Regions from separate parts of the Homo sapiens genome. Here region 2 is linked to region 1. Evidence: fine-mapped expression QTL. A gene starts in region 1. The other region holds a variant in brackets. All regions are shown on one strand. Distances are from middle to middle.

Region 1 (16,335 bases):
ATGCATAGAATATTATGAATTTTTAAATTTTATAAATCTGCCATAAAGAGTATTTTGTCCAGCCACCCACTATTGGTGGGAGTATAAATTGGTACAACCTCTACTGTGGGCCATTTATCACATCTACCAAATGAGCCCCGTGACCCAGCAATTCTAGTTCTTGGACTTTTTCCTACAGCTACATTCACAGTGAAACAAAATAGTGTGTATAAAGGTTATTTATTAAGTGCAGCACTGTTTGTTACAGCAAAACCTTGGAAAGTCCTTAAATATCTATCAATTAGGGATGAAAAGGACTGATTCCAGGGCAACAATGACGGGGAAACCTTTATGGAAATAACAATGCAAAGCAGGTTACTTTACATATTACATTACAAAAATCCTATCGGCTACCTGGAATTTACTTAAAGGATATATACTAATTATCTCGAGCTAGTATGCAATATAGCAAGACCACACATTACTCTCTTTCTTTCTGAGACAGGGTCTCACTCTCTTGCCCAGGATGGAGTGCAACAGCGTGATCATAGCTCACTGCAGCCTTGAATTCCTGGGTTCAAATGATTCTGCCACCTCAGCTTCCCTAGTAGCTGGGACTACAGGTGTACACCACCACGCCCAGCTAATTTTTTTTTTTTTTGTAGAGATGGACTTTCCCTATGTTGCTCAGGGAGGTCGCAAACTCCTGGGCTCAACCAACCCTCCTGCCTTGGCCTCCCAAAGTACTGGGATTACAGGCATGAGCCACCACACTTGGCCTACTCTTTCTTTAAATGAAAATGTAGCAAAAGGAAATCACTTTCTGTGTATTTTATTATAACTTACAGTTAACAGAATGTGAGTGTGTTCAGAAGCTTTACCTCAGTGCCCCCGGAAGTGAAGATTATATCTTGAGGTTTCCCCCCTATCATCTTCGCGAGGCTTTCCCGAGCTGCATTTATAATATCCTTGGCCTTTCTTCCTTGAGGGACCAAAAAGGAAATTCATTAACATTGCTTCACCAAGCTCAATCAACGCATCTAAAAGGACAACCAAATACAAAGGAATAAGAGGTCTGCGTGGGCCGTTCTAAGACAAAACCTGGCCCCTTAATGTGAGCACAGCAAAATGCTACAACCTAGACACAACCCGGCAAAGGGGCGGCCGAGACAGCAGCGAACCAGGGACCAAACTGAGAGTTATTAACTCCATGAGACCCAGAAACAAGTAAGGGAGTCTGGCTATGAACCTGGACGTCCCCCAAGATGTGGCTTTCTTCTTACTGGATGCTAGAGGGAGGGCAGCTGTGGCCATCTGCCTTGCTTCCCATTCATCAAGAGAGGAGAATGAAAGGATGGAATGAGTTGCAAACAACAAAAATAAGCAAAAACAGAACTCATGACTCGACGCGAAGTCCAGTGCCATATCTCATTTTGCATGTCGCCCACAGGGTACCTGGGCTACAAAGGTTACTGTCTCAGGGACACACCTGCTTTCAAACAGGGCTATGCATCCGGCCATCACCCAGTTTCACTGGCTAGAAGGAAAACACAGCAACCATGCTTGATGGGGCAAAGAAGGAAAGGCTCTGGCATGGGAATGCCGAAAGTTTCAGTGACCATTCTTAGTGTACACACCAGGAGTCCCCAAACTTTTTTGACCATTCAGTCTTATTTAAAAATAAGAAAAAATTGAGCAGGCACCGCTAAAACATATACTATTACGAAACATCATAAAAAAGAGAAATATAAAAAGCTGAGGTAAAATAAATATGCAAAGTAATTCTGCTGCTCCTTAACGCTACTGTATAGATGTCAGTTTTAGTAGTAGTTTCCTAAACACCTAAGTGGTGTTTAGGAAAACTCCATCATTTTTCTTGGTGACACTAAAAGTCACCGTAATAAACTGTCACCCTCACTCTCAGCCTTCCCTCTCTCAGTGATAATGGTTTGGCTGTGTCCCCACCCAAATCTCATCTTGAATTGTAGCTCCCATAATTCCCACGTCATCAGAGGGACCCGGTGGGAGGTAACTGAATCATGGCGGCAGGTCTTTCCCATGCTAGTCTCGTGATAGTGAATCAGTCTCATGAAATCTGATGGTTTTATAAAGGGGAGCTCCCCTGCACGCACACTCTTCTCTGCTGCCATGTAAGATGTGACTTTGCTCCTCTTTCGCCTTCCTCCGTGATTGTGGGGCCTCCCCAGCCATGGGAAACTGTGAGTCAATTAAACCTCTTTCCTTTATAAATTACCCAGTCTCAGGTACATCTTCATTAGCAGCATGAGAACAGACTAATACACTCAGGAAATGGCAACTCCATCCCTCAGCAGCCCAGGGCAAAAGCGTGGGCTCTTTCCCTTTTCATTCCCCGCCAATTAATCCACCAGCAAATGCTGTAGGCTCTGTGTTCAAACGATGTTCCAAACCTGACTCTGCCTCTCCACCGCCCAGCCACCAACCAAGCCAAGGCCACTGCTGTGATGTTCTCCTAGCAGGCCCCCACCAGGGTCCATTCTCCACATAGTGGACAAAGTAATGCCTCGAAAACCCAAATACATTTTGGGCACCGTGCTTCATCCCTCCCCCAACAGGGTGCTGAGTACACAGCTGGTGCTCAGTCAGTGCTGCTTACGTCAGCGGTTTCCAAAACCCCAAGGCCCTCTCAGGAGGTCCACAAAGTCAAAACTGTTTTCATGATGATACTAAGAGAAGAACTGCCTTTTTCACGCTCCTTTTCTCACAGGTATATGGTGAACCTTCCAGAGGCTTCCGTCACTATGATGTGACTGCAGTGGGCTGGACGGGGAGGTATGAGCGCCAGCTATCTTCCAGCAACAGGCAGTAAAGAGACTTCCACATGCACAACAGTGCAATGCTCACTAGGTTTCTTGTTTTGCCGAAGATAGTTTATTTTTCATAAAAATTCATGAATGCTGAGCTTATTTTCAGGGTTTTTGTTTGTTTTGCTATTATAAGCAAGACTGTGATAAATATCTTAGGTATGTAAAATCCCCACATCCTCAACATATTCCTTAAAATAAATTTCCCTCAAAGGCTTTAGATAATATTTAGGCTGGGCATGGTGGCTCACACCTGTAATCCCAGCACTGTGGGAGGCCGAGGTGGGTGGATCACAAGGTCAGGAGTTCAAGACCAGCCTGGCCAAGATGGTGAAACCCCGTCTCTACTAAAAATACAAAAATTAGCCAGGCATGGTGGCGCGTGCCTCTAGTCCCAGCTACTTGGGAGGCTGAGGCAGAAGAATCGCTTGAATCCGGGAGGCGGAGGTTGCATTGACCCGAGATTGCACCACTGCACTCCAGCCTGGGCGAGAGCGAGACTCAATCTCAAAATAATAATAATAATAATAATAATAATAATAAAATAAAATATTATTAGTTTAAATAACAATATTGTGAAAATAATTAAACCACTCTATAAATTGATTTTTTTTCTTTTGCATTTCGATCTGAGTAGCAACACAAAGTGAACTGCAACACTTTTGAGTTTATGGTTCTTAATTTGTGGAAACAAAGGCTATCAAGGAAACCTAAAAGCCACTGCCAGGCTTCATTCAGGTCCAGAACATGATTTCTCCCTGAGAGCGATTCCCAGACTTTTTCATGAGACAATGCCTGTCATCGGCATTTAATTATTCTCCATATTTTCAAGTCTAATACGTCAGAAATTTCAATTTTACTAGAGGAGAGACTGGATACGAGGCAATGTGCAGAAGATTAGCCAGAATAGACCAACAAATAAGCCAACAAATAAGTTAATGAATGACTAGTATCTGAGCTGAAGGGCTTTGTTATTAAGTTGCCGTGAAACGTTTAATAAGCAAATGGATAGGAGAACGTATTAAACCTGTAAATTGTACGCAAGTGTTACTAAATCGTATGGCCTGGCAATATTCTGTTTGAAGTTAATTTAGTTCATCATCATCCACAGTTAACACAGTTTATCTTAATTATCTCTCATAAACATGAAATAAGAAAGGTAAGACTTTAGCTTGCTCATCTGTCTGAAAAACAGAATGTAACTCTGTCATATAACTGACTTGAAGCAAATTCTTCTCCAAAACCTCCAATTTAATGGTCTACATTACAATAAGAATAAATTGGAAACAAATAAGAATATTCATAACTAAAGTAATTAATGAAAAAGTAATTTTCATCTTTAAAAAGGGCCAGGATTATATGTTATCCTGATGACCTAAAAGACATATTTTGCAAATTCTGTAAGGATTGACTGAGCTAGATCTGTGAAGTGCTCCACAGGTACTGACTGCTACTTCAAGGAACTCTCAGTAGACACCTTTCTCATCTGGGAAAGGGTGACAGGACAGCATGTTAAAGATTAAACATTAAAGGTTAAAGATTACAGTATCGACAAGGCTCAGCTTACAAATGGGGCCTTCCCAGAAAAGAAACTATCAAAAATTACAGCTCAAGAATTGCAGCTAACAGAAACCTATTCAAAACAAAGCCGTCACGTGTGGGTGTGCAATTTCTCTAAGAGCGCCCCATCCCCATTATCTCCCATCAGTGAACACGTGCATCTTCTAGAATTACCTGCTGAATACGGGCTGCTGGGATTTCCCCAGGCTTCCCACATGGCCTTGGTCATGGCCTGGATAACTTCTGGCTCCAGGGGAGTCGTTGCATTATAGTCCATATAAACTTTCCTGAAGGAAAGAAAGCAAAGACACCCATTAAGGAAAAGGAGATGGCATATGGGAAATATGGCTGCTCTGTGTCTATCCCATCGGCAGGAGCAAATAATGTCAAGGGCATGGTGATCCTCTGCATAAGCACTGCAGGCATCCACAAGCTGCACTTGGGAATCTACAGATCTACACTACTTATGGAAAATGCATGCATAATTTCTAAGACTCTAGTTTTTGTCAATTTCTTTTATAATTGATAGGACTTGGATTTTCATTTCGGTTTTCAAAATTTCTTTCTAGCAAGGCACAGTGGATTGTGCCTGTAGTCCAGCCATGTGGGAGGCTGAGGCGGAATGACCTCTTGAGGCCAGAAGTTTGAGGCTGCAGTGAGCTATGATGGTGCCTATGAATAGCCACTGCACTCCAGCCCGGGCAACACAGCCAGACCCAGTCTCTAATAACAAACACTCTTTCTACCCCTTGGTAGGATTAATGGTCTGTTGGGCCCAGATTACCCATCTGACTGCTGTAAAGGGCAGATCACTGGCCTCTTCCTTATGGAAGGAGGGGAACAGCTGCACATTCCCCAAGGGAACTTTCCTGTCTGCTGTTTTAACTTCATCAGAGGTTCGCCTTATTTCCCCACACTCATTTTTGCGATGGCCTGTGGGGCTCCTAGTGACCTGGGCTTCTCCCTGGGGCAGGTGAACTTTGGCCCCAGACCTTGCACTTTCAGTTTCTTTGCCCAGAAAGACTACATGCCCTGCCCCCACCTTACTTTTTTAGGTCTTTGTTCCAACTTAGTCCTCTTGTGAGACCCCCTGCCCTGCAGCTCTGCTTAAAACTACAGCTGGCTGGGCGCGGTGGCTCACGCCTATAATCCCAGCACTTTGGGAGGTCAAGGCAGGTGGATCACTTGAGGTTAGGAGTTTGAGACCAGCCTGGCCAACATGGTGAAACTCCATCTCTACTAAAAATGCAAACATTAGCCCTACTAGGGAGGCTGGGGCAGAAGAATTGCTTGAACCCAGGAGGCAGAGGTTGCTGTGAGCCGAGATCATATCACTGCACTCTAGCCTGGGCAACAGAGTGAGAGTCCGTCTCAAAAAAAAAAAAAACAACAACAAAAAAAACAAACCCACAAAACTGCAGCCACCTATGTCCCTACCTCCCCAGCCTCCAGGTCCCCTTCCCGCCTTCCTTTCTGGGCAGCATCATCATCTGACATACCAGACTTGTTCCCTTACTGTCTACCTTAATAGAGTAACAGAAGTATGGCTCCATGGGCATGGGGGCTCTGTTTTTCTCACTGCCCTGTCACCAATGTTGAAGCCCATGGTTGCCACACAACAGGGGCCTGATTTTTATAAGATGACAAAATAAATGCCACAGAAAGTACAAATTCCCTGAAAGATCCCTCACTAAGTAAAATTTATCTGTATATCTTTTTACTAATATCCAAAACCTTCGAAAGCCTTTAGAAAAATGTGTAGTAGTAGTCCTGCCTGATATTAATTTATCTAGTTTTTAAATAAACAGTGCTTACACCAATCCACATGAAAACCCAGATACAATGACTAACTGTGGCTGTTAAGCCACTGAGTGTGGACAGAATGTGCATTAGTTGAAATGAAGCATCTTTTCTGTTCAAAATCACTCAACAGGCTGTGCCCTGTGGCTCACGCCTGTAATCCCGGCACTTTGGGAGGCCAAGGCGGGCAGATCACCTGAGGTCAGGAGTTCAAGGTCAGCCTGGCCAACACGGCGAAACCCCATCTCTACTAAAAATACAATAAAATTAGCTGGACGTGGTGGCACGTGCCTGTAATCCCAGCTACTTGGGAGGCTGAGACAGGAGAATCGTTTGAACCCGGGCAGTGGATGTTGCAGTGAGCCAAGACTGCACCACTGCACTCCAGCCTGGGTGACAGAGTGAGACTCCATCTCAATTAAAAAAAAAAAAAAAAATCACTCAATAGGTACAAGGCTTTGACAAGTTTGACTCGCCATCCTTTACCACTCTGGTACTAGTATTAATAGTCCTAGGAATCCCCCAGCCCGGCTTGACTTTGCATGTGCCCTTATATCTGTTTTTCTTTCCTATAAATAAGCATCCAAAGTACCTTAGGCTAGCTAGTGTTTGTTGAGCGACTGTAGCTCTTCAATCTGCTGCTGGGCTGAACAAATCTATTTTGTTCAGATTAATACTTTACACATTCCTTTGCTTCATTATTTGCTGCTTCCTTAAAATGCTATCAGTATTGGATGAGCAGGCTCAACTTTGTTAGCTTCATAACCAAAAAATAAAAAATCTTGGGAATCTCGCTCCACTGATTCCCTAGGGGATATTTTCCCAGATCCCTTCACTTTGTTCCAACCAAGGTAGAATGCCAAATGTGTGTGCTTTAGGCCTGGACCCCCTCATATTCTAAGCATGGGTAGCGAATGAGCTCACAAAAAGGAAAAAGAGGGGTCTGGAAAGAAGACACACAAACCAGAAAATGCATACCCCTGCCTCCTGCTCTTCTCGGACTTAACTAGTATGGATACCACGTGCTTCGGGTCTCCGCGCTTCTCAGCGGTGGCCATCCCGTTTCCTGCAGCTGGGCCAGCAGTCTGGGAGAACCCTTGATTCCCTTTCACCTGCCCCAGTGCACCAGCTTCCTACCAACGCATCCGTTTCTGGGCGCACACCACATCTCTCTCCTAGGTTGTTACAAGATCCCCAACTGGCTTCCCGGCTTCCTCTCGTCCCATGCCTACCCGCGCCCCTACTTTCTAGGAAGCAGCCAGAAGGACTCCTTCAAAACACTTAAATTGCATCGCCCCGTGATCAACTTCCGAGGCCCCATAAGGCTCCGAATGAACCCCAAAGTTCTTCCCGGGCTCAGGGGCTCTGCCGGTTCACCTCCGGCAAGTCCCCTGCCCTTCGCATCTGCTGTGCCCTCTTCCTGGCAGGCTCTGCTTCCCCAGAACCTGCAAACCTCACCCCTGGAAGTCACTCGGGTTTCGGCCCCAAAGTCACCTCTCCGTGGGCCCTTGCGGGGCCACAGCTCGCACCCGCTCCTCCTTGAAGCTCGCATCCCTGACTTAGGCCGACCTCGCGGACATCCCCGCGCGGGACGCCCCACGCGAGAGCGGCCACAGGCCGGGAGCCCCCTTCGTCCTCCCGCGCGGGACAATCGGCGACAGGCGCCGGCCGCTCCCCAGCCCTGCCCTAAAGGCGCGCACCTCTCCGGCGAGTTGTGTTTCCCGCAGCCGCTGGGCTGACTCGCCGCGGGTGCCGGCGCATCCCTCCCCGGCGCCACGGCCGCCTCCATCCCCGCCCCACTGCTGCCGGGCATCCAGCCTCCTTCCCGCGGAGCGCTACGGGCCCAGAGCGCCGGGGAGGAGGCGGGGCCGCGACGCCCGGGCGCGTCCGGATTGGCTGAGCGAAGCACCCCAGCCAATCCACCCGCTTCAGAGGGCCGCCGAGCCCCCAGCGGGGAGGCGAGGCTGCGCTGGGTCAGGTGACGGGTGGGGGCGGGGCTTAGCGCGTCACAGAGCTTCCCGGGAACCGGGCGCTAGAAGCCGCGTCTCCTGGGCCGGCGGATCCCCGCACTTTCACTTCCGGGGGAGCCCCGTGACCTTTGCTGTCTGCGGCAGGGCCGCCATCGGGCCGCGGCCGGTTAGTCGGCGTAAGAGCAGGCGGGGCCCGAGCTGGACCTGAGGAGCAGAGGCGGCTGGGCAGTCCTGCGGGTGCCTCCCTCTAGCCGCATGAGCGCGGGACCGTGCACTCCGGGAGAGCCGGGGCCGCGCGGCCTTGTTCCCCGCGAACCCTCGAGGGGAAGTGCCGGGGCCGCGGCAGCAGGGCCAGGGCCCCGGGGGTCTCCCGCAGGCCACCCTGGACAGTGATGAGCAGGTCCGCTGGACCTGCGCGTCCGTTAGTCGGAGCGGCTCCATAGGGGACCTGGATGGCGTGAAGTTAAGAGTCACGCATCGAGGATGGACTTGAGGGGATCTGGAGTAGAGGATGGGAGGGCATTGAGAAAATAGGGCCAGAGATGAGGGACTCTAAGTGGGCGTGGAAACGCAGGAAAGATTAATTCAAGATCTGTTTAGGCCGTTAAATAGGAATTGGGGCATGAGGGACAGGAAGGAAGCAAGGATTAGACAAGTGACTGGGAAGATGTTAGTGCCTTTATCTGGGTAAGAGGGAAGACGGGAGGGGGAAAGATGATGGGTTTAGCTTTGGACATGTTGAGTTGTCTGTGAGACAGTCACAAGTGTAAACATCCACCAATGGTTGGTGTCCCGCCAACCATTAAGAAAAGTCAGTTGAGAAAGTGGTAGAAATGAGCAAAAATCCTCACGAAGCCATCCTACCGTCACTTTTTTTGTTGTTTTTTGTTTTTTTGGCATAATAGTGTCTACCTTTAATTGAGCCTTGAACTATGCCAGGCAGTGTTCTAGGTATTTTTCGTGTGTTCACTAATTTAATCTTGATGATTAACCCAGTCTGGTAGGTATTTATGTATGAGGAATCCAAGATACAGAAAGGCATCTTGCCCAAGTTCACACGAGTAGTGGCTGGAGCCAAAATTCGGTTTCAAGCATGCTTTGCCAAGAGGTTGAATTTTAATTGGCTTTTCATGGGCTTTCTCTATTTTGTGTCCTGTTGGGGTCCAGAATAACTTGGCTTTTCCAGCACAGCAAATCTGCAAATTTCTGGACTCATTCTCTCTCATTCTTCCCTATAAACGCAGCTCATTTCTTGCCAAATGCAGCCAATAGCAAAGGGCCCACCAACATTTAAGAAGCAAATGGATGCACAGGAGCATGAGAACAGTCAAAAGAGGAGGAAAGGAAAGGGAATTGAGAAGGAATGTCAAAAAAGTCAAGAAGACACATAATAGTGTAAAGTGTGGCTGAGAGGCAATCCGAAGTCTACTGTGCGTAACAATTAGGAGGCACTGATAAACTAGCGAGAGAAGTCTCAGTGATGGGAGAGGCATGGAAGTTAGAATGCAAAGATGGGATATGAAAAAATGAAGAATGCAGTCAACTCTTAAAACGGTTGAGAAAGGAGGAATTAAAAAGGCGTATAAGATTACAGGCAAGCTGGGCGCGGTGCTTCACCCCTGTAATCCTAGCACTTTGAAAGGCTGAGGTGGGTGGATCACCTAAGGTCAAGGGTTCGAGACCAGCCTGGCCAACATGGCAAAACTCCGTCTCTACTAAAAATACAAAAAGTAGCCGACTGTGGTGGTGCATGCTTGTAATCCCAGCTACTGGGGAGGCTGAGGCAAGAGAATCACTTGAACCTGGGAGGTGGAGGTTACACAGTGAAGCTGAAACCATGCCACTGCACTCCAGCCTGGGAGTCAGAGTGAGACTCCGTCTCAAAAAAAAAAAAAAAAAAAAAGATTAAGAGCAAATAGAGACTGAACATGTTCATAGGCTAAAGGGAGTTAGCCAACAGGACGTGCAAGGAAGAGGAGCCAAAGTCCTGGAGGAGACGATAGGGGATGAAGTTAAGAGTAAAGGTGGCTAGGGAAGTTGATAGGCATGGGGAGAATTCATTCTCTAAATCTGTTTGGAAGGCTGTAAGGATAGGAGCCCAAGGACAATGGACAAAGTGACGATTCATCCCAAGCACTCCTTGGGCCAGTTAGGCAGCAATAAGGTTTGTGTTTCCAGGTGAACATAGTGAGTGTAGTGGTGGAGTCAGACAAGATAGTGTCCAACATGGCTGGTGATACCCCGAAAGAATTGAGTACAAACATACAGAAGCCCAGGTGCTGAGGTAGCCCAGCTGAAAACAGTTTAGGGTACAACACGCAGCAGCAGCTACCACCATTCCAAGTATACTGGTCACACATGCAACAGATGACCTACCAAGATGTCTCTAATACAAACACAAGTGCCCCATAGTGGCCAGACATTTGAGGAATGGCATCTCCATGAAGATAGTGAGAGGTGACAGCGTGCTGGCAGCCCTGGCAGCCCTCGCTCGCTCTCGGCGCCTCCTCTGCCTGGGCTCCCACTTTGGTGGCACTTGAGGAGCCCTTCAGCCCACCGCTGCACTGTGGGAGCCCCTTTCTGGGCTGGCCAAGGCTGGAGCCGGCTCCCTCAGCTTGCAGCGAGGTGTGGAGGGAGAGGCGCGAGCGGGAACCAGGGCTGCGCGGGGCGCTTCTGGGCCAGCTGGAGTTCCGGGTGGGCGTGGGCTTGGCGGGCCCCGCACTCGGAGCGGCCTGCCAGCCGGCCCCGCCGGCCCCGGGCAATGAGGGGCTTAGCACCCGGGCCAGCGGCTGCGGAGGGTGTACTGGGTCCCCCAGCAGTGCCAGCCCACCTGCGCTGCGCTGGATTTCTCGCCGGGCCTTAGCTGCCTCCCCGTGGGGCAGGGCTCGGGACCTGCAGCCTGCCATGCCTGAACCTCCTCACTTCCATGGGCTCCTGCGCAGCCTGAGCCTCCCAGACGAGCGCTGCTCCCTACTCCAGGGCACCCAGTACCATCCACCGCCCAAGGGCTGCGGAGTGCAGGCGCAGGGCAAGCGGGACTGGCAGGCAGCTCCACCTGCAGCCGCAGTGGGGGATCCACTGGGTGAAGCCAGCTGGACTCCTGAGTCTGGTGGGGACTTGGAGAACCTTTGTGTCTAGCTCAGGGATTGTAAACGCACCAATCAGCGCCCTGTCAAAACAGACCACTCGGCTCTCTGTAAAAAGGACCAATCAGCAGGATGTGGGTAGGGCCAGATAAGAGAATAAAAGCAGGCTGCCCGAGCCAGCAGTGGCAACCCGCTCGGGTCCCTTCCACGCTGTCAAAGCTTTGTTCTTTCACTCTTTGCAATAAATCTTGCTGCTGCTCGCTCTTTGGGTCCACACTGCCTTTATGAGCTGTAACACTCACCACGAAGGTCTGCAGCTTCACTCCTGAAGCCAGCGAGACCACGAACCCACCGGGAGGAACGAACAACTCCAGACGCACCGCCTTAAGAGCTGTAGCACTCACCGCGAAGGTCCGCAGCTTCACTCCTGAGCCAGCCAGACCACAAACCCCACCAGAAGGAAGAAACTCCAAACACATCCATACATCAGAAGGAACAAACTCTGGACACGCCGCCTTTAAGAACTGTAACACTCACCGCGAGGGTCCGCGGCTTCATTCTTGAAGTCAGTGAGACCAAGAACCCACCAATTCCGGACACAATAGCACGTGCACCAAATAGAATTCTCACCTAAGGGAAAAAGTTTATAGAGCTATCAGAGTAGGTCTCCAATAGAGCAAGGTCTTGAGACAAATGGGTATTTTATTTAAAAAAAAAAATAGGCTGTCATGAAACAAGAACAAACAGTGAAAAGAGATACTAGACATTAATAATTGAAGTTTAAAAACTCAACATGAGTTGTCAGGTGTTGGGGAAGGAAAAGATGCATAGGCAGAGAACAGAATTTTTAGGGCAATGAACTATTTTGTATACTATAATGGTGGATACATGTAATATATTTGTCAAAATTCACAGAAGATACAACACCAAGAATGAATCCTAATGTAAACTATGGACTATGGGTGATGATGTGTCAATGAAGTTTAATCAGTTGTTAACAAAAGTACCACAGTGGATGTTGATAGTGGAGGAGGTTGCGTACATGTGCACAGGCAGGGGATATATGGTAACTGCTCAATTTTCAAGTGAACCTAAAACTCCTCTAATAAATAAGGTTTATTGTTTTTTTTAGAACCCCCCAATAGATGGGTTGAAGAGCAGAATAGGCATAGCTGAGGAGTGAATTCGTGAACTGGCCCTAGGAATTCTCTGATTATTGCTCAAAAGGATAGAGATGGAAAATATGAAATAAAATTGTCCATTGAATATGGTGATTCTCAAGCAGAGGTGATTTTTCCTTCCAGGGGTCCTTTGGTCATATCTGGAGACAATTTTGGTTACCATAACAGGAGCTGTGGTGCTTCTGGGCTGTAGTGAGTGAGGCTATTTATACTACTGAGCATCCCCCACAATAAATTATTAGCCCCAAGTGTCGCCAGTGCCAAAGGGGAGAAACCCTGATGTGGTTCCACGTTTCCATTTGGTATCATTTCTTCTGCCAAAGGACTTTGTAGTGCTAGTCTGCTGGTATGCTTCCTTCAGCTTTTGTACACATGAAAACTTGTTATTTTGCCTTCATATTTGATATGTTCCTTAGATCTAGAATTCTGGCTTGAGATTTTTTCTTTCAGCACTTTAGAGTTACTTCTCCAATATTTTCTTGCTTGTATTGTCTGCACGAGACATCTGTTGTCACTCTTATCTTTGTTCCTCTATATGTTGTCTCTTTATTTCCTTCCTGCTTGCTTTGAATATTTTGCTCTGGCCAGGCACAGTGGCTCACGCCTGTACTCCCAGCAGTTAGGGAGGCAGAGGTGGGAGGACAGATTAAGCCCATGAGTTCCAGACCTGCCTGGGCAATATAGCGAGATCCCATTCTTCACAATAAATTTAAAAAACTATTTAAAATATTTTGCTCTGTCACTGATTTTGAGCAGTTTCATTATGAGACTTCACTATGGGGTAGCGTTCTTCATGCTCTTGTGCTTTGGGTTTGTTGACCTTTTCAGACCCATTGGATTAGAGTGTTTATCAATTTGGAAATTTTTTCTTTTCAAATATTTCTTTCTCCCCTGCTTCTTTGGGGATTCACAATTATGAGTTATCTCACAGCTCATGAAGTTCTCATGGGGGGAGAGGTTCCCAGTTTTTCCCTTTATTTTGGATTGTCTTTGTGGCTCTATCTTGAAGTCCATGTTTCTTTTGTAACATATAAGCTGCTGTTAAACCCATCCAGTGTCTTTCTCTAATTTTTTTTTTTTTTAGATGGAGTCTCTCTCTGTCGCTCAGGCTGGAGTGCAGGGGCGTGATGTTGGCTCACTGCAACCTCCGCCTCCCAGGTTCAAGTGATTCTCCTGCCTCAGCCTCCCAAGTAATTGAGATTACAGGCATGCGCCACCATGCCCGGCTAAATTTTGTATTTTTAGTAGAGACAGGGTTTCTCCATGTTGGCCAGGCTAGTCTCAAACTCCTGACCTCAGGTGATCCCCCTGCCTCGGCCTCCCAAAGTGCTGGGATTACAGGTGTGAGCCACCGAGCCCGGCCTGTAATTTTTAATTGAATGCTAGGCATATTATATTTTCTCTGGTGTGTGCTGGATTTATTTTATTTTATTTTATTTTATTTTTGTAGACAAGAGTCTTGCTCTGTCACCCAGGCTGGAGTGCAGTGGCATGATCTCAGCTCACTGCAACCTCCTCCCAGGCTCAAGCAATCCTCCCACCTCAGCCTCCCAACTAGCTGGGACTACAGGTGCATGCCACCACACCTGGCTAACTTTTGTATTTTTTGTAGAGATGGGGTCTCACCATGTTGCCCAGGCTGGTCTCCTGTGCTTAAGCCATCCTGACCTCTGCCTTAGCCTCCCAAAGGGCTGGGATTACAGGCATGAGCCACCACTCCTGGCCTGGATATATATTTTTAATTAAAAATTGTATTGAGATCATTGTAGATTTACATGCAGATGTAAATAAATGAAAGAGATCCTGGCTGGGTGTGGTGGCTGACGCCTGTAATCCCAGCACTTTGGGAGGCTGAGGCGGATGAACCACCTGAGGTCGGGAGTTCGAGACCAGCCTGACCAACAAAAATACAAAAATACTCTCTACTATACAAAAAACTATACAAAAATACTGTCTCTACTAAAAATACAAAAAATTAGCCAGGTATGGTGGCGCATGCCTGTAATCTCAGCTACTTGGGAGGCTGAGGCAGGAGAATCACTTGAACCCGGGAGGCGGAGGTTGCAGTGAGCTGAGATCGCACCATTGCACTCCAGCCTGGGCAACAAGAGTGAAACTCTGTCTCAAAAAAAAAAAAAAAAAAAAAAAAAAGATCCTTTACCCAGCTGTCCACAATGATTAACGTCTTGAAAACTATAGTGTAACATTACAGCCAGGGCCAGGCGAGGTAGCTCACGCCTGTAATTCCAGCACTTTGGGAGGCCGAGGTGGGTAGGTCACGAGGTCTGGAGTTCGAGACCAGCCTGGTGAATATGGTGAAACCCCGTCTCTACTAAAAATACGAAAATTAGCCAAGTGTGGTGGCATGTGCCTGTACTCCCAGCTACTCGGGGGGCTGAGGCAGAAGAATCACTTGAACCCGGGAGGCAGAGGTTGCAGTGAGCCGAGATCACCACTGCACTCCAGCCTGGGCAACAGAGCAATACTTCCTCTCCACCTCTCTCTCTCTCCATATATATATATACATATATATACATATATATATATACATATATATACATATATATATATATATATATACATATATATACATATATATATATATATATATGTATATATATCTCACAACCAGGATACTGACATTGATACAATTCATTGTTTTTCCCCAGCTTTACTCATTTGTGGGGTGTTTAGCCCTATGCAATTTTGTGATGTGTACATTTGTGTATCCACTACCACAATCAAGATACATTTCCATCATTACAGGGATCCTTGTATTAGTCTTAAAAACAAATCCACCCCCTCCTCCTGCCCATTCCTGTCTCTAACTTCTGCCAGCCACTAAACTCTTGTGTTTCTAAAATTTTGTTTTTCCAAATGTGTTACATAAACAAAAACATACAGCATGTTACTTCTTGAGATTTTTTTTTTTTTTCCTCAGTGTAATTCCTGGAGACTGGTCCAAGTTGCTGTGAATAGCTTATTGCTGTTCACTGCCGAGTAGTATTCCAGGGTATGTGTGTACCACAGTTTGATTAACCATTCACAGGTTGAAGGACACCTGGGCTGATTCCAGATTACAGCTGTTATAAATAAGGCTACTATAAACATTGGTGTAAAGGTTTTTGTGTTAACGTAAGTTTTCATTTCTCTGGGATAAATGGTCAAGAATGTAGTAGCTGGGGCATACAGTAATTGCATGTTCACTGTAATGACTCAGCAACTGAAATTTCCAACTGTGACTGCAGATTTGTCTGTCTCCTTTCAGCTCTATCAGTTTTTACTTCATGTGTTTTGAGAGTCTGATGTTGGTAAAGGCACATGTAGGACTGTCTGGTGGTGAATCTTCTGTTATGTAATATCTGTCTTTGTCTCTGCCAATTTTCTTTGCTCTGAAGTCTAAGTGATCAGATATCAATATAGTCACTGCTGCTTTTTTTTTAAATTAAATTCCGCATATCTGTTTTCATCCTTTCAATCTACAAATGTTTTTTAATTTGATGGGAGTTTCTACTAAACAATATAATTGAGTTGTGTCTTTTAATCCACTCTGCCAATCTTTGACTTAAGAGAATTACTGATATGTTAGCTCTTAAATCTACCGTTTTGTTTGTTTCATCTGGGTTTCAAGCTGTATCTCTTTACTTGCCTTCCTTTGGGTTACCTGAACAGTTTTCAGTATTCTGTCTTGATTTCTTTATACTGTTTTCAAAAACTGAGATATAATCCACATACCATAACCTTCACCCTTTTAGAGTACACAATTCAGTGGATTTTCGTCTATTCCCAAGGTTGTGCAACCATCACCAATTCCAGAATATTTTCAACACCCCAAAAAGAAATAACTGTGCTCATTAGTATTCATTTCCCATACCCTAGCAACCAGTAAACTTTTTTTTTTTTTTTTCCGTAAGAT
Region 2 (16,335 bases), 49 kb after region 1:
GTGTCAAGTCAGTCATGGCAGTGAAGCAGATGCACCCTGAGAAGCCCCAGCCCATCCCTAGGCTCCGCACTGGCTGCTGTATCCGTTCTCACTGACCCACCTGGTGCCCTCAGAGTGTGCCCTCACACTCTATCCTGAATGCCTGTGCCTATGTGATTTTCCTATGCTGACTGAATTATTTCATCTCTTTTCTACACTAAGTTTGTAGGGGGCAGAGAGAGGGGCAACCACTGAACAATTTGTGTTTTTGCCTAGCATGGCAGGCACAAGCTACACACCGGAAATAGTGTGGGCAAGACAGCTGGCACTCCCTCAGGGCTCACAGCCCAGTGGGAAAGAGATGCTCAGGAGAGTCTGTAAGCAATGATTCATTATAAATATGGCAAATGCAACTACTTTTGTGTTCAGCCAAGTACTACACCCTAATGATCCCCTGGAGACGCCCTGCTGGGGACACCAGTGACATATGCTGGCCCCTAGAAGTTGCCCCACACTTGCCTGAATGAGAGGCAGACAGGAAGAAAACAAGAGAAGGGAACAGGAGGCTGGGTTCAGTGGCTCATGGCTGGAATCCCAGTACTATGGGAGGCCAAGGCAGCGGATCACCTGAGGTCAGGAGTTCGAGACCAACCCGGCCAACATGGTGAAACCCCGTCTCTACTAAAACTACAAAAATTAGCCGGGTGTGGTGGCAGGCACCTGTAATCCCAGCTACTCCGGAGGCTGAGGCAGGAGAATTACTTGAATCCAGGTGGCAGAGGTTGCGGTGAGCTGAGATCATGCCATTGCACTCCAGCCTGGGTGACAAGAGTGAAACTCCATCTCATTAAAAAAAAAAAAAAAAAAAGGCTGAGCACAGTGGCTCCCCAGCACTTTGGGAGGCCGTGGCGGGCAGATCACCTGAGGTCGAGAGTTTGAGACCAGCCTGACCAACATGGAGAAACTCCGTCTCTACTAAAAATACAAAATTAGCTGGGCGTGGTGGTACATGCGTGTAATCCCAGCTCCTCAGGAGGTTGAGGCAGGACAATCACTTGAACCCGCAGGCAGAGGTTGTGGTGAGCTGAAATCGTGCTAGCCTGGGCAACAGAGTGAGACTCTGTATCAAAAAAAAGGCAGGGGGGACAGGAAGGAAACGCTGGGGAAAGGAGAGGAAAGGACCCTACAGAAGCAGGGTAGGAACATGGTTCATGCAGAGCCACCAGCTGCTCTCAGTACTTCTGGGTTTGAGAACATGGGGTTTTATTCCTGATGAAATCTGACCAGCCCATCATTTATGAAACTTCCAAAAGAGACAGCAGTGGAAATAGAAAAATGTAAGATCATCGTTACAGAGCTAAAGGTCAAACACAGCACACAGAACTTCAGAAAGGCTGCATGGGAATGATGTTTCCCCACAGGGACTAGTAGTGGGGAGGGGAGAGGGGGGCTGGGGAATAGCAGGTCTGAGACAAGGACAGGAAAATTTAAGCCTTACCCCTCCACCTCAACCTCTGTGCCAGTCTCAAACTAATAAGGGAAACTAATAAGGGAAACAAGTCTTCAAGGCTCAGTGGCTTTCAAGTCATTCTTTATTCCATTTTCCTTCCTATTTCTTGAAGTCACAAATGGGACAAGACAGTATGACAAACATTTTCTCACCACCTGATGTGGTAGGAAGGGCACACGCTTAAAAGCTGGGCAGCCCTGGACATTAAGTGACTTCAACAATTCAGCCGTCTCCATTGGCAAAGCTAATGTTTTTAACTTTAGCTTTCAGAACCCAAACTTCCTAATGTATAAAGATATGAATGTTAAGATCACCCACTGACAGGAGGCTAGGGCAGGAGAATTGCTTGAACCCGGGAGCTGGTGGTTGCAGTGAGCTGAGATCACGCCACAGCACTCCAGGCTGGGGAACAGAGCAAGACTCCGTCTCTAAATAAATAAATAAATAAATAACCCACTGAACCATCAGAAGAATGAAATAAAGTAATGTGAGTCAAGACACCTGGCACACAGAGGCTCTCAATCATGCCCATTCCTTCCCTGGTATTTTCTCTTAGTTTGCTTTCTTCCTATAGTGAAAACAAGGAGCTCTGCTCCTAGATGATGCCAGATATACCTGAAACAATGGTTCTCTGATGCCTCACGACTTGTCTGGAAAGTTTATCAGCTTAGACTTAACTCCCTGCTATGACATCCAGAACGGTATGTCATAAGTATTTAGCAGCAAATCTAAATACAGAATTTTAAATACTGTATGCCTGTTTGTTTCCAGAAACCACCAAAGAGTCCCCAAATTCTAAACATCTGTACTGAAACCAAGCCTCTGGAACCACCTCCCACCGGACATGGTGCAGTGCTCCGTCGCCAGGTTTCTCAGTGTGGTTTGGGAAGGATGGAAAGTCTCAGCAGGTGGTGGATGGACAAAGACTGGAAATGTGTATTTTCCCATCTTTGTCTACAAATTTAAAAATTTCTTGGGCTGCCAACTCTTCCCTATCCCCATAAATTACATTTCAAAAAGAACCTTAAATGGAGTAGTCCGGTAAAAAGTCAATTTCCATAGATGAAGGTTTGCTTCTAAAACAAGTGTTGCAGCCACTGAACGGAGCCCAGTGGCTGGGGTTGGGGGGCAACTCCACTCGTCAGGCAGTGGGAGCACACTTCCCACAAGCGAAGTCACAGGAACAGTGTCCCCAATGCCCACATCCTCATGATGGGAGTGAGGCTTCCTTTTCTCTGGCAGCACCATCAGCTTGTGCTTTCCTACTGGACGGGCCAAGAGGGTTAGTTAGAACACGTGAGTAGGAATACATATCCATGGTGCACGCCAGTAAGACAAGCATGCTGAACTGCCTGTACGTCAACCCCTGGCAATTTGGGCCGAGACACATCACACCCGTCCCTGAAGCGCAGCCACACCTCCTCTAATACCCCAACTTGGGGGTGTGGAATTATTCAGACTCTCCAGTGGTTTGTCACTGCCAAATCGAAAATGCCCAACCAAACCCCCACATCTGAGTTTTCCCATTTTTTCCTCTATTCTTCCCCAACTCCAATTCTTCACTCGAGTTGACCTGGCCCTATCTGCCTTCTGCAGGTTGCAAGTTCTCATGTCCACACCTGTCACCACAGTTCATCATGTTTCCATGTCACCTAGAATACCCTCCCCTGGTTCTGGGCCACATCGGGGTGACTCCAGTTAGATTTCCCCCTAAAAGCTTAACTAGCCCTGACCACTTTCCAAAGTGATGATTACTTTCCCTTCTCTGAATTCTCAAAAACTAGTTTCCTATCATTGATGAGTATCACTACTGTCCTCTACTTACCATTTTTATCGCTTTATCAACTTTCTACACTTTATCTCTCCTAATTGGTCTGTAAGTTCCACCAAAGCAAAGACATAATGTAATGGTATTTGGTATAATTATTGTCTAAAAGGATCTTTGAGGGATTAACATGAAACTATAGGTATAAATTACTTATAGTTTAAACTACAAGTCACTGTTCTCTGAAATTCTAAAATACACATTTTATAGACTTCTGGAATTTTGGTGTTATATCATGAACAAAACTACAGTCATTTTATTAAATGCTTTTTTTCTTCAGTGCCAGACTGTAACAGATAAGAGTTATAGAAAATACACAGGCAGGCTGCCTGGCACATAGTACTCATAAGTATTTGCTGAATAAACGGAATTCTCTACTAACACTCTAAATACTGCTGATGAGTGACATTCATCACAAAAATACTGAAGTGAGTACTCAGTCACACATGGACACACGCAGAGGGGAGTGCTAGGGCCCTGTGCCAGTGGCGGGCCACAGCCACAGGCAGCCCCGCCCGAGAAGTAAAACAACAGGCTCAACGCAGGCTACTCACCACCATGTTGTACGCATCGGGAACTTCAGTTTCAAACTGAAATTTTCCACCCTGGTAGTAACCCTCATCTATCAAAAAACACAAAACAAAACAAAAAAATCCTTTAAATTAAAAAAAAAAGGAAACAAAAAGCAAACACTCTGTTAGGATATGGCAAATACAGAGAATCAGGAGTTTAAAAACAGGCCTGCAGAGTTCCTCGGTTCCATCACCAAATGCACACACACTGGTGGAAGTCCTGCCCCTGCCTGAACAGAAATGGGCTCCATGCTGTCACCTGCCTGTCTGTCTTCTCAGGGGGCTGAGCACACCCTCAGGGAAGGGAAGGGACATCCTTCTGGGGCCATCTGCCTGGCCTCCTTGCATCCTACCATGTTCCTGGAACCTACAACCCTCCGAACACATCTCATGCCTTAAGTGACTTCTTTATCTGCTTACTGCTGGTCTCCCCAAGAGAATGTCAATTGGAGGACACAAGACTAACAGTCACCAACAAACCCTTACTGAGCACCCAACCTCTGCTGGGCATGGTTCTAGGCCTTGGGGACACAGCAGTGAACCTGACAGAATCACTGCCTCAGTGATTGCTTGATGCAGCCTTCAGAACAGAGCAGGCCTTCTAGAAACGCGGGCTGGTAGGCACGAAGGAGGAAGCCCAGGGTCTGAGCATCACCACATTGCCATCCACATGCTGTGTACCCCCACTCCCTCTTTACCCCGCCCCCCACACCCTGTAGACCCCACAGGGCAGTCCCTCTCCTCAGGTGGTACCCAGCCTGGGGTCACTAAGTGGCTGCTGGTGCCAGCAGAGGGCACTTCAGCATGAATGAGCTTGGAAAAGCCACTGGAAATAAATTATTCTCAATTTTCAAATTTGACAGAATTAGCACCATTTTAAAATTAAAATTCAACTTCCCCTAAAATATTTATCATCATGAACAAACCAGTAATATTAAATCTTATCATTTTCCTCAAATTTTTATATGAAATGAATGCATAACAGCAAGTTGTTAGCCTCAAACAAGTCATCATTAAAAAAAAATTCCATTCCTTAAGAGTTGAGACCGTATCAACATTTATGTCATCTAGTAGTTAAAACTGGCATTACCTGGACCCTAACATTTTTTTTCTTTGCCAATTTGATAGAAGAGAAATACCAGTTCTCTTTTATTTTACATTCTCTGATGAATACTAGTGAGGCTAAAATTTATATGATTATTGGTCATTTAGGTTTTTCTTTTAAGAACTGAATGATCAATGTTCTGAAACTCTCCTTTTATTACTGAGGTATTCATCTTTTAATTACCAATACAAAAATCTCTTAATTAGCCTTTGCTTTTTAAATAGGCTACAAGCAATTTTTCTTAGTCTGCTGTTTGCATTTTGATTTTGTGGTTTCTGAACACTAGTTTTCCATTTTTAAGAAGCTAATCTTTCTTTAGGGTTTCTGTCTTTGGGGTCATGCTTAGAAAAGGCCTTTCCCAACCAAGATTATATCAATATCCTCTTATATTTTCTTCTAGTAATTTAATGGTTTCATAGATTACATTTAATCAGCTCATTCATTCATCAACTGATTGCAGACTAAGGTCGTATTTTTTTTCCTAACTGGTTGCTTAATCACCCCAACGGCGTTTATTATTCTAGCCTTCCTCCACTTACTTGAGATGCGTATTTCTAGTTTTTATAAATACACTTGGATTTCTGACTGGCAGTATAAAGTCTCTGGCAAAGATACTTGTTTGGGGAAATTTTTAACTCCAGATATAAGAACTTTTCAAATAAGTGGCATCTTAGATATAAAATACTCAGAGTACATATCCTTGTTCATCAAAGCATGTGTGGATGTTGGTGTCTTACATGTATTGTGATATTGACCACTGTGGCACAACACAGAAATCCAATGCCAGGCTTAACATTACAAACCACGCAGTCCACTCTGTGAACTGTTACACAGCTTTTGGATGATGCTGCTTCACCCGCGCTGTCCTTTTCCTTTCCCTTAGGAATGATTACTACCCATGCGAGACACCCTGGTCGTGGCTGTGCTCTGGCCATTCCATCCTGCCATGCTATATTTTTTCTCTAGTTGGCTTTCCAGTTCATGGATTACAGAGTTTCAACTCTATTGCCTACCACTTTCAAAGATGTTATTTGGTCTAATATGATTATCACTTCACCTTATTCCCTCTGCTCCAGTCAAGTTCTTCCTTAATAATTATTAGGATTATATCTTCTCTTAACTCATTAAAAAGTGAGAACAGACTGTTTTATTTTTTTCTCTTTCATGAAACAAATCTCTCTCAGGAAAATGATCTGCTCCTGCATCAGTACTTCTTTTTCCCTCTTTGAAGTTGCACAGTTTTTAGACCTGATCCAAATCTGCTTATTTATTATTGTTAATTTGCCCAGAAATTCCACAGTCCAACTTAAAAAGCAGCTTGGGAGCAGACTGGACTGAGATGAAACCCAAGAGCATCTCTTATTTACAAGGTTTCCTTCACGATGTCCCCAGCTTAAGAGTTCAGATTCACCTTCTACACCTGGCTCTGGGAGTACCTGGCCCAAGGCGGAGACGGTTCAAGGAAGGCCTGCTCACTTCCACAGCCGGCAGGTAGTGGACTCATTGAGAATGTCTGTAACTACACGTGCACCGTGGCCCACAGCACAGTACACAAGTCCAGGACAGGCCAATTCTATGTTACTATCGTCCATGGCTGCTGGGACTGAAAACACATTTCTCAGACAACTAGGTTTTAAAATACAATAATGAAATGCAACTGAGGGAAGTTCCTGGCACTCAGCTCTCAATCAGCCAGCCTGGCCCCTGCCCCACTGTTACAATTAGAGGAATTATCCTCCTCTTTCCTTGTGCTTTAGAGCCCACTCCTCACTACCTTTGAGGAACCATACTCCAGTGTCTTCAAGATTACCGAGAGCCCTGGGAAAACAAACCTTTTGAAGGGGTATGTCGCCTCAAATCACTGTGACAGAATCCATTTCTAGATTCTAGATGGCCGACATCCACATATGCTCTGTCTGGTAACAAATCTGTGGACAACGCCCTTGAGGCCAAGGAGTCATGCCAGCTCTCTGTCCCACCTCCTCTTCTACAACCTTCTTCCCCCCTGCAAAAAAAGGCCTACCTCCCATCTCCCCCTGTACTAGAATGAACTGTCTCAAGGAGTGGACATTCCCAGGGGACAAAAGTACCCGTGACGCACTGATAAGGGTAAAGCCACCTCAAAGCGACACATTAAGGTAGGGTTGTGCTTTTCCCTATATTTGCTTTTTCCCCCACCACTGTGTCTCCATTCGCTTTTCCCTATCTATAACCATTTCTTTCTTTCTTTTTTTAAATTATTTATTTATTTTTGAGACAGAGTCTCATTCAATTGCTCAGGCTGGGGTGCACAGCTCACTGCAGCCTCGAACTCCAGGGCTCAGGTGATCCTCCCACCTCAACCACCCAAGTAGCTGGGACTACAGGTGTGTGCCACCACGCCCAGCTAGTTTTTTTGTAGAGATGGGGTCTCACCATGCTGCCCACGCTGGTCTCAAACTCCTGACCACAAGCGATCTGCCCATCTTGGCCTCCCCAAAGTGCTGGGATTACAGGCATGAGCCACCACACCTGGCCTATACCCATTTCTGTAAAGGACAAAGCATGGTATTATAAATAGTATGTCCTGGTTCACGCTGGAGTGTCTTGGGTTCAGACACTGTGGAGTCTGATGGCAGGGATGATGAAAACTTCATTTAGTAACTTCAAACCCTAGACCACTGTAAAAGCAGGCATTACCCCTTTGAGAGCCAACAAAAGAGGATGCCAAGAAACAACAGCCATGGTGCCTTCCTCCACCTAGGGCACCAGTTCCACGTCTCACCTATCTAACTAGGAACCTCCAGGAGCTCAGAGTGAGATGGCTGTCAGAGGCATATTGTTAGAATGAAAATGAAGTAAGACTTTTGCCTGAGGGAAAGAGTGATTTCGCAGACTAGTTTGACAATTAATGTATATGGCAGATAGTTTTGATAAACTGAATGGGCTGAATCTGGAGCTCCAAGCTTTGGGTGAAAATAGGAAGAATGTAATAAGATTTTTAAAAATACTACATTGGTATACATATTAGCATGTGGAAATTAATAATACTGCTGTTTCTCTCAACTCTTCCTCAGCATTTCCAGCAAAAGCCTGCAAAGCTGCTCTGAAGTGAGGAGTGACAGATGTAACTATTCAGGGTAGAAAAGCATTTGATGTCCCTGCAGCTGACAGGGATTGGTAAA[G/C]TGATTCTGGTGGACACTTCAGAAACTGAAGCAAAGGACTCCAATGACTGAGTGACAAAGCCTTCTCCAAGTCAGGTGGCTTCCAATTCTCTACTTTCAACAAAATGGAAGAAGGAATCTAATCTAACAGTCAGTGGAAAAATCATGAAAATACTTTATATGACGACAGGCAAGGTGACTCGTGCCTGTAATCCCAGCACTTTGTGGGGCCAAGGCAGGTGGCTTGCTTGAGTTCAAGAGTTTGAGACCAGCCTGAGCAACATGGCAAAACCCCATCTCCACAGAAAAAAAAAAAAAAAAAATTGCCAGGTGTGGTGGTGTGTGCCTGTAGTCCCAGCTACTTAGGAGGCTGAGGTGGGAGGATTGCTTGAGCCTGGAAATTTGAGGCTGCAGTGAGCCATGACTGCACCACTTCACTCCAGCCTGGGCAACAGAGTGAGACCCTGTCTCAAAAAAAAGAAAATACTTTGTACAATCTTTGGCCTTTAACTTTGAAGTCCAAAGACAAAATGGCACAGCCATAACAAGACACTTTCCATGCCCATCTAATCTACTTATTTATGTGAACAAGCAGTCCTGAGTGTTTATATCTATAAAGACAAAATAATGGAAGAAAACTGGTATCAGACCTTTGTTTCTAGCATAAAATAATATTCATTCACAAATGCATCAATTTAATCAGGGAAAATGCTAATAGTAACCCCATCATTTTCAGAGATACACTGCAAGTGAAATGTTTAATTATCATCAAAATTTGCTTAAATTCATTATTCATTACACAAATAGTTGATGAGTGCCCACCATGTGCCACACACAGTTCTAGGCCCTGGTGACACATCAACAAGAGATAATTCCCGCCCTTATGAAGCGTATATTCTAGTGGAAGGGAGAGAAAATACATAAATTATATAATAGAAGGAGTAGAAAGTGGGAAGAGGCTGCAGTTTTAAGCAGGGAGGTCAGAGAAAATGATGAATTGAAGGAGGAGGGTACTGGGGTGAAGGACACTCCAGGCAGATGAAACAGGGTGGGTACGGTAAGAGGCCTAGTATGTTCCGTGAACCCTGCAGAAGCCAATGTGGTCAGAGAGTGAGGTGGAGGAAGAGGACCTGAGCCCAAAGAGGGAGCAGATGCAAAGGGTGTTGGGCCCTGCAGGCCCCTGCATGTAGCTGGCTCTGATTCAGAGTGAGATGCGGCCATGAAAGGGGTCTGAGTAGGGGAGGCACAGGAGCATATAAATGGATCGCAGAGCAGGAGCCCAGTTGTGGTTATCTGTTGTAATCATCCAGGTGAGAGATGGTAATGGTTAGGATCAGGGTGGGAGCAGGTGAAGTAGACAGATTTTGAAGGCAGCAACACCAGAATTTGCTGACAGATTAGGCACGGAGGGAGGAGAGAAGGAGTCAAAGAAGATCTTTGACCTTGCAATGGAAATGGCAGAGTTGCTACCATGAAGATAAAAGGACTGCAGATGGCACAACTGTGTGAAGTTCAAATCAGACACATTAACTTGAGATTTCAAGTTGGCATCCCAGTGGAGGTGTTGAGTGGGCAGCTGACAGATCATTCTTGAGTACTGGGAGAGGTTGGATAGAGAGGGCAGTTTGGGAGCCATTCAGGGTAAAGCATTCTGATGTCACAAGATAGCCAGGACACCAGGGAACTGACTATACAGGTCCAAAGACAGGGTGAAGCCTTGAGGTTCCCCCACTTTGAGGGGCTGGAAGATGAGGCAGAGGACAGGCAGCCAGAGACAAAGGAGGAAAAACCAGAAGCAGGAGCCTGTACAAATAACAACTGCAACAATCGTTCAAAAGCAAATGTTTAACACCTAAGAGTCTTACAGTTATAGGAACTTTTCAAATAGTGAGCTCTGGGCCGGGCACGGTGGCTCACGCCTGTAATCCCAGCACTTTGGGAGGCCAAGGCAGGCGGATCACAAGGTCAAGAGTTCGAGACCAGCCTGGCCAACATGGTGAAACCCGTCTATACTAAGAATACAAAAATCAGTCGGGCATAGTGGCGGGTACTTGTATTCCCAGCTACTTGGGAGGCTGAGGCAGAAGAACTACTTGAACCCGGGAGGCAGAGGTTGCAGTGAGCCAAGATTGTGCCACTGCACTCCAGCCTGGGCAATAAAGCAAGACTCTGTATCGAAAAAAAAACCAAATAAATAAAGCTCAATCTATCTATCTACCTGTATATCTAGTTACAGAAGAGTATAAAAAAATGACAAATAAAATACTTAAAAGCATAAAAATGTTTACATTAGGGTGCAATTCAAGGGAACAAGTGGAATGAAAACATGAGTGCCAGGAGAAAAACTAGCAAAGGTTTTCCAGCCAGTGAAGTAGAGCTTATTCACATCAAAATAAACAAAAAAACAAAAAAACAAAAAACTGTGATGATGGGAGTATCTGTGGTGGTGGGCATATCTGTGGTATTTATATTCTACACTGGAAACATTTCAAAGAGTAATATAAGACTTTCATTTTTAAATGTCAATATTTACAGCACCCTGGAAGTGACATCCTATGCAAACTTTAAACTTAAAAGGCTCTGATCCATCTCAGATCAGACTGTTGAAAGAGAAGAGACAGAGACAGATGGTGGAGAAGAGGAAGTGAGTGTGAGCGGAGGCAGGAGGCAGCACAGACATGGGCACCAGGGAGTGGCCAGGACTCTGGGATGCAGGGCTGCAGACAAAGGCACAATGACAGCTATTGTATAGAGATGCTGAGACTTAGAGGAAAACATGAACATAATGAGGAAAGAAATGGACGGTTACGGGGAAAGCACCAAATGGAACGTCAACAGCTAGAAAATACAGTATCTGAAATGAAAAATTCACTGGATGCGCTTAACAGCAAATGAGACATTGCAGAAAAACAAACTGTCCAAAATGAGGCACAGAAAGAAAAGTGAACGAAGACCTGCGACCCAATGGAGGTATAATTTACACGTAGAAGTAATCTATATGTAAGACATATATGATATAGATATATAAACTAGAGTGCCAGAAAACGATCACAGAAAAATATTTAAAGAAATGTTGGCCAAATTATTTCTAAATTGGATGAAAACTATAACTCACAGATCCAAAAAGCTTAATAAACCCCAAGTGTGATAAAAAGAAAAAACCACTTCAAAGCACATTATAATCAAACTGCTGAAAGCAGTGATAAGGAGAAAATCTTAAAAGCAGCCAGAGAATAAAATGCACATCGCATAAAGTGGAACAAAGAATCACCACTAACTTGTAAGGAAAAAATACAGAAGGCAGTAGAATGATATCCTTAAAATGCTGAAACTGTCAACTTAAGAATTCAAACTTCAGCAACACTTGACAGAATTCATCACAAGCAAATCTGCACTACAAAAAAATCTTCAAGGATGTTCTTTAGGCAGAAGGAAAATAACAGAGAGGAGAAATCTAGATCTACAAAAGGGAATGAGGGTCATAAATGTTAAGTATGTGGAGACATATATTTTAAAAACAGACTGTAAAGCACAGATAATATATTCTGGGTTACAACATATGTAAAAGTAAAACAAATGAGAACTATAATATAAAGGTTGAGCTGGGAAATGGAAACATACTACTGTTTGTCTAAGCTTCCATCTTAAACATCAGAAAAAGAAGAGCAAATTAAACTGGAAATAAAGAGGAGGGAAATAACAAAGACATGAACAAAATTCAAAAAACAACAGGGCAAAATCAATGAACCTAAAAGTAGGTTCTTTGCAAAGGTCAAAAAATTGACAATCTTCTCATTAACCTGATCAAGAGAAAAAGACAAAAATTACAACATCAGTAATTAAAGAGGAGATACAACACAAACTCTACAGAACTTAAAAGGATAGGATAAGATGATACTAAGAACATTATATCAATAAATTGAAAAATGCAGATGATATGAGCAAATCCCTTGAAGGACACAAATTAGTGAAGCCCACTCAAGAATAACCTAGGCAGCCCTATATCTATTAGAAATTGTGTTTATACTTAAAATCTTACCACAACAAAACAAAATTCCAGAGACAGGTGGCTTCACAGGTGAATTCTACCACTGAATAAAGAATTAATAGGCCAGGCACAGTGGCTCACACCTGTAATCTCAGCACTTTGGGAGGATCACTTGAGCCCAAGGGTTCGAGACCAGCCTGGGCAACATAGTGAGACCCCCGTCTCTACAAAAAATAATTAGCTGGACATGGTAGTGCATCTGCCCACTACAGACGATGGGCATCTGTAGTCCCAGTTACCTGGGAGCCTGAGGCGGGAGGACTGCTTGAGCCCAGGATGTTGAGGCTGCAGTGAGGCGTGATCGTGCCACTGTGCTTCAGCCTGGGCAAGAGAGTAAGACCTTGTCTAAAAAAAAATCAATTAACTAATTAATACTAATTTTACACAAACTCTTCCAGAGAATAGGACACTCCCCAAATGCATTCAAAGACCAGAATGCATTACCTTGACACCAAAATTAGGCAACTCATTACAAAAAAAACTACAAATATCCCTCACAGACAGGTAAGGATTTGTAAAAATTCTTAACAAAATACTAATATATCAAACTGAGCAATATATGAAACCATTAACACATAATACATGATGAATTATGGTTTATCTCACAAATGCAGCTTTGGTTCAACATTTGAAAAATAATCTATTAATGTAATTTACCTTATCAACAGACCAAAACAGAAAAACCATTATGATCACCTCAGTAGATGCAGAAAAAGCATTTGGCAAATTAAGCATCCATTCATTATTGGCCATTTTTGGTTTGGGAGGAAAAAAGCATCCATTCATGATTAAAAAAAAAATACATACATACATATACATATATATGTATATATGCAAACAAGAAGTAGAAAAGAACTTCTCAACCTGATAAAGGGCATCTGCAAAAACCCTATAGCAAGGCCGGACTCAGTGGCTCACGCCTGTAATCCCAGCACTTTGGGAGACCAAGGTGGGCAGATTACCTGAGGTCAGGAGTTCGAGACCAGCCTGGCCAATATGGTGAAATGCCATATCTACTAAAAATATAAAAATTAGCTGGGCATGGTGGTGGGCACCTGTAGTCCCAGCTAATTAGGAAGCTGAGGCACATGAATCGCCTGAACCCGGGAGGCAGAGAATGCAGTGAGCTGAGATCACACCACTGCACTCCAGCCTTGGCGATAGAGCAAGACTCTGTCTCGAAAAAACAGACAAAAACCCTACAGCAAACCATACACGTAATGATGAAAGACTGACAGCAACCCCCTAAGATTAGAAACAAGCCAGCTGGGTGCAGTGGCTCACGCCTGTAATCCCAGCACTTTGGGAGGCAGAGGCAGGCGGATCACCTGAGGTTGGGAGTTCGAGACCAGCCTGACCAACATGGTGAAACCTCATCTCTACTAAAAATACAAAAATTAGCCGGGTGTGGTGGTGCATGCCTATAATCCCAGCTACTTGGGAGGCTGAGGCAAGAGAATTGCTTGAACCTGGGAGGTGGAGGTTGTGGTGAGCTGAGATCATGCCATTGTACTCCAGCCTGGGAAACAAGAAGGAAACTCTCAAAAAAAAAAAAAAAAAGAAAAAAGAAAAAAGGAACAAGCCAAGGATGTCCCTCCTACCACTTCTATATATGACTGTACTGGAAGTCTTAGACAACAAAGTAAAGCAAGAAGAGGAAACAGAAGGATACAGACTGAAAGGGAGAGATAAAATTGTCTTTATGCATAGATGGCATGATAGTTTACATAGGAAAGTCTACAGAATCCACAATACAACTACTACAATGAAAAGCAGGTTTATCAAGGTTGTAGGACACAAGGTCACTATACAAAAATCAGCTGTATTTTTATGTACTAGCAACAGAAAACTGAAATGGAGATATAAACCATGTTCATGGATTAGAAGATGTGATAATTAAGATGACAATTGATATGGTTTGGACGTGTGTCCCCTCCAAATCTCATGTTGAAATGTGATGCCCATTGTTTGTTTGAGGTGGGGTCTGGTGGGAGGTGTCTGGGTGATGGAGAAGATCCCTTATGAATGGCTTAGTGCCATGGTAATTAGTGAGTTTTTACTGTTAGTTCATGCAAGAGTTGGTTGTTTAAAAGAGTCTGCATCTCTTTTGCTCCCTCTCTCACCATGTGATATGCCGGCTCCACTTTGCCTTCCGCTAGGATTATAAGCTTCCTGATGCCCTCACTAGAGGCAGATGCCAGCACCGTGCTTCCTACACAGCCTGCAGAACCATAAGCCAAAATTAGCCTCTTCTTCACAAATTACCTGGCCTCAGGTATTTCTTTATAGCAATGCAAATAAACAAACACAGCAATTCTCCCCAAATTGATTTACATTAGAGTCAATGCAGTCCTAATCAAAATCTCAGCAAGTTTTTTGCCGAATTTCACAGGCTGATTCTAAAGTGTATGTGGAAAAGTAAAGGAACAAAAATCACCAAAATAATTTTCTACCAAAAAGTAGAAAAATGTTGAAGGAGTCAGAGGTCACATGATGGGATTTCAAGACTTACTATAAAGCCATAATAATCAAGCAGTAGTATTTGTACAAGTGTAGACGTGCAGAACAATGGAATGGAACAGAGTCCAGAAGCACACCCACACACATATAGTCATGTAATGTCAACAAAGGTGCCAAGGTAAGTCAATGGGAAAACCCTGTTCAACAAATGGTGCTAGAAATGGACAATGCAAAAAAGAGATAGAAAAAAAAAACCAGAAAACTACACTCTTCTCTTGTATAATATGTGAAAATTAACTCAAACTGGATCACAGACCTAACCATAAAACCTAGAGCTATAAAACTTCTGCTTTTAAAAAAATAAGGCCGGGCATGGTGGCTCCTGCCTGTAATCCCAGTACTTTGGGAGGCCAAAGTTGGCTGATCACTTGAGCCCAAGAGTCAAGACTAGCTTGTGCAACATGGTGAAACCCTGTCTCTACAAAAAATACAAAAATCAGCCAGGTGTGGTAGCATGTTCCTGTGGTCCCAGCTACCTCAGGAGGCTGAGGCGGAAGGATAACTTGAGCCCAGGAGGTGGAGGTTACAGTGAGCCATGATCGTGACACTGCATTCCAGCTGGGGCAACAGAGCGAGACCCTGTCTCAAAAAAATAAAATAATTTTAAAAATAAGAGAAAATCTTTGTATTTCTTAGACAAAGATTTCTTAGGACACAACAAACACAAACTATTCTTACTAGTTTTGCATTGCTGCTATAATAAATTTCCACAAACTCTGTGCCTTGAACAATACAAATTTATTATCTTCTGGAGGCCAGAAGACCAAAATGGGTCTCACTAGGCTAAGATCATGAAGTTGGCAAGAGGGCACTCCTTTCTGGATGCCCCAGAAAAGGCTGTCTCTTTGCACTATCAGCGGTCAGAAGCTGCCAGCATCCAGGGCTCATGGGCCCTTCCTCCATCTCCAGAGGGAGCAGTGGCAGGTGAGTCTTTCTGCCAGTGCCTCACCTGCTTCCTGCTTCCATTGTCACATCACCTTCTCTGGCTCTAACTGCTTCTCTCTCCCTTTCCACTTTAAGGATCCCTGTAATTACACTGGGTCCACCTAGAAACTCCAGGACAATCTCCCTCCCTTAAGATCAGATGACTAGCAATCTTAATTTATCTGCAACTCTAATTCCCTTTTGCCATGAAACATAACACATTCAACAGGTTCCAGGAATTAAGACACAGACATCTTTTAGGGCCATTATTCTGCCAACCACATTACCACAAAGAAAACAATCATAAGTTGGATATCCCCAAATGAATTTAAAATACATGGTCTTTAAAAGGTCTTTAAGGAAATAAAGACGAGCCATAGACTAGGAAAAAACATTTATAAAACACATCTGATAAAAGACGTATCTATGGTAAAGAACTCTTAAAATCCCACAATAAGAAAAAAAAACCTTATTTTTTTTTAAATGAGCACAACAGTTGAGCAGACGCATCTCCAAAAAAGAGACAGTCATTAAGAAAATGCAAATTAATACCACAATTAAATACCACCATGTAACCACTACCATGAGTAAAGTTTTTTCAACTAAATGCTGGTGAAAATACAGAGCAACTAGAATTCTCATACAGTGCTGGTGGGAATGCAAAATAGTGCAGCTACTTGGAAAGAACAATTTTGTAGTTTCTTATAAT

The links. PIP is the estimated chance that this variant, and not a neighbour inherited with it, causes the effect.
Region 2: its variant is fine-mapped to the expression of SCLY in whole blood (TOPMed, PIP above 0.99).

Annotation. Positions count from the first base shown.
Region 1 is chr2:238,052,691-238,069,025 of GRCh38, reverse strand. SCLY (selenocysteine lyase) reads right to left here and starts at 8,025. Exons shown (of 12, transcript NM_016510.7): 1 at 7,883-8,025; 2 at 4,557-4,669; 3 at 861-961. The coding sequence starts at 7,971. UBE2F-SCLY (UBE2F-SCLY readthrough (NMD candidate)) reads right to left here. Exons shown (of 19, transcript NR_037904.1): 8 at 11,776-11,868; 9 at 4,557-4,669; 10 at 861-961. RefSeq lists silencers at 7,816-8,265, 8,406-8,615, a cis regulatory region at 11,659 and an enhancer at 11,575-11,744.
Region 2 is chr2:238,004,167-238,020,501 of GRCh38, reverse strand. It overlaps UBE2F (ubiquitin conjugating enzyme E2 F (putative)), which reads right to left. Exons shown (of 10, transcript NM_080678.3): 5 at 3,869-3,936. The region is part of intron 4 of UBE2F-SCLY (UBE2F-SCLY readthrough (NMD candidate)); the gene reads right to left. Among named protein-coding and RNA genes, the nearest start is that of UBE2F, 45 kb to the right of the region's middle. The variant G/C (reference allele first, on the strand shown) is at 8,156.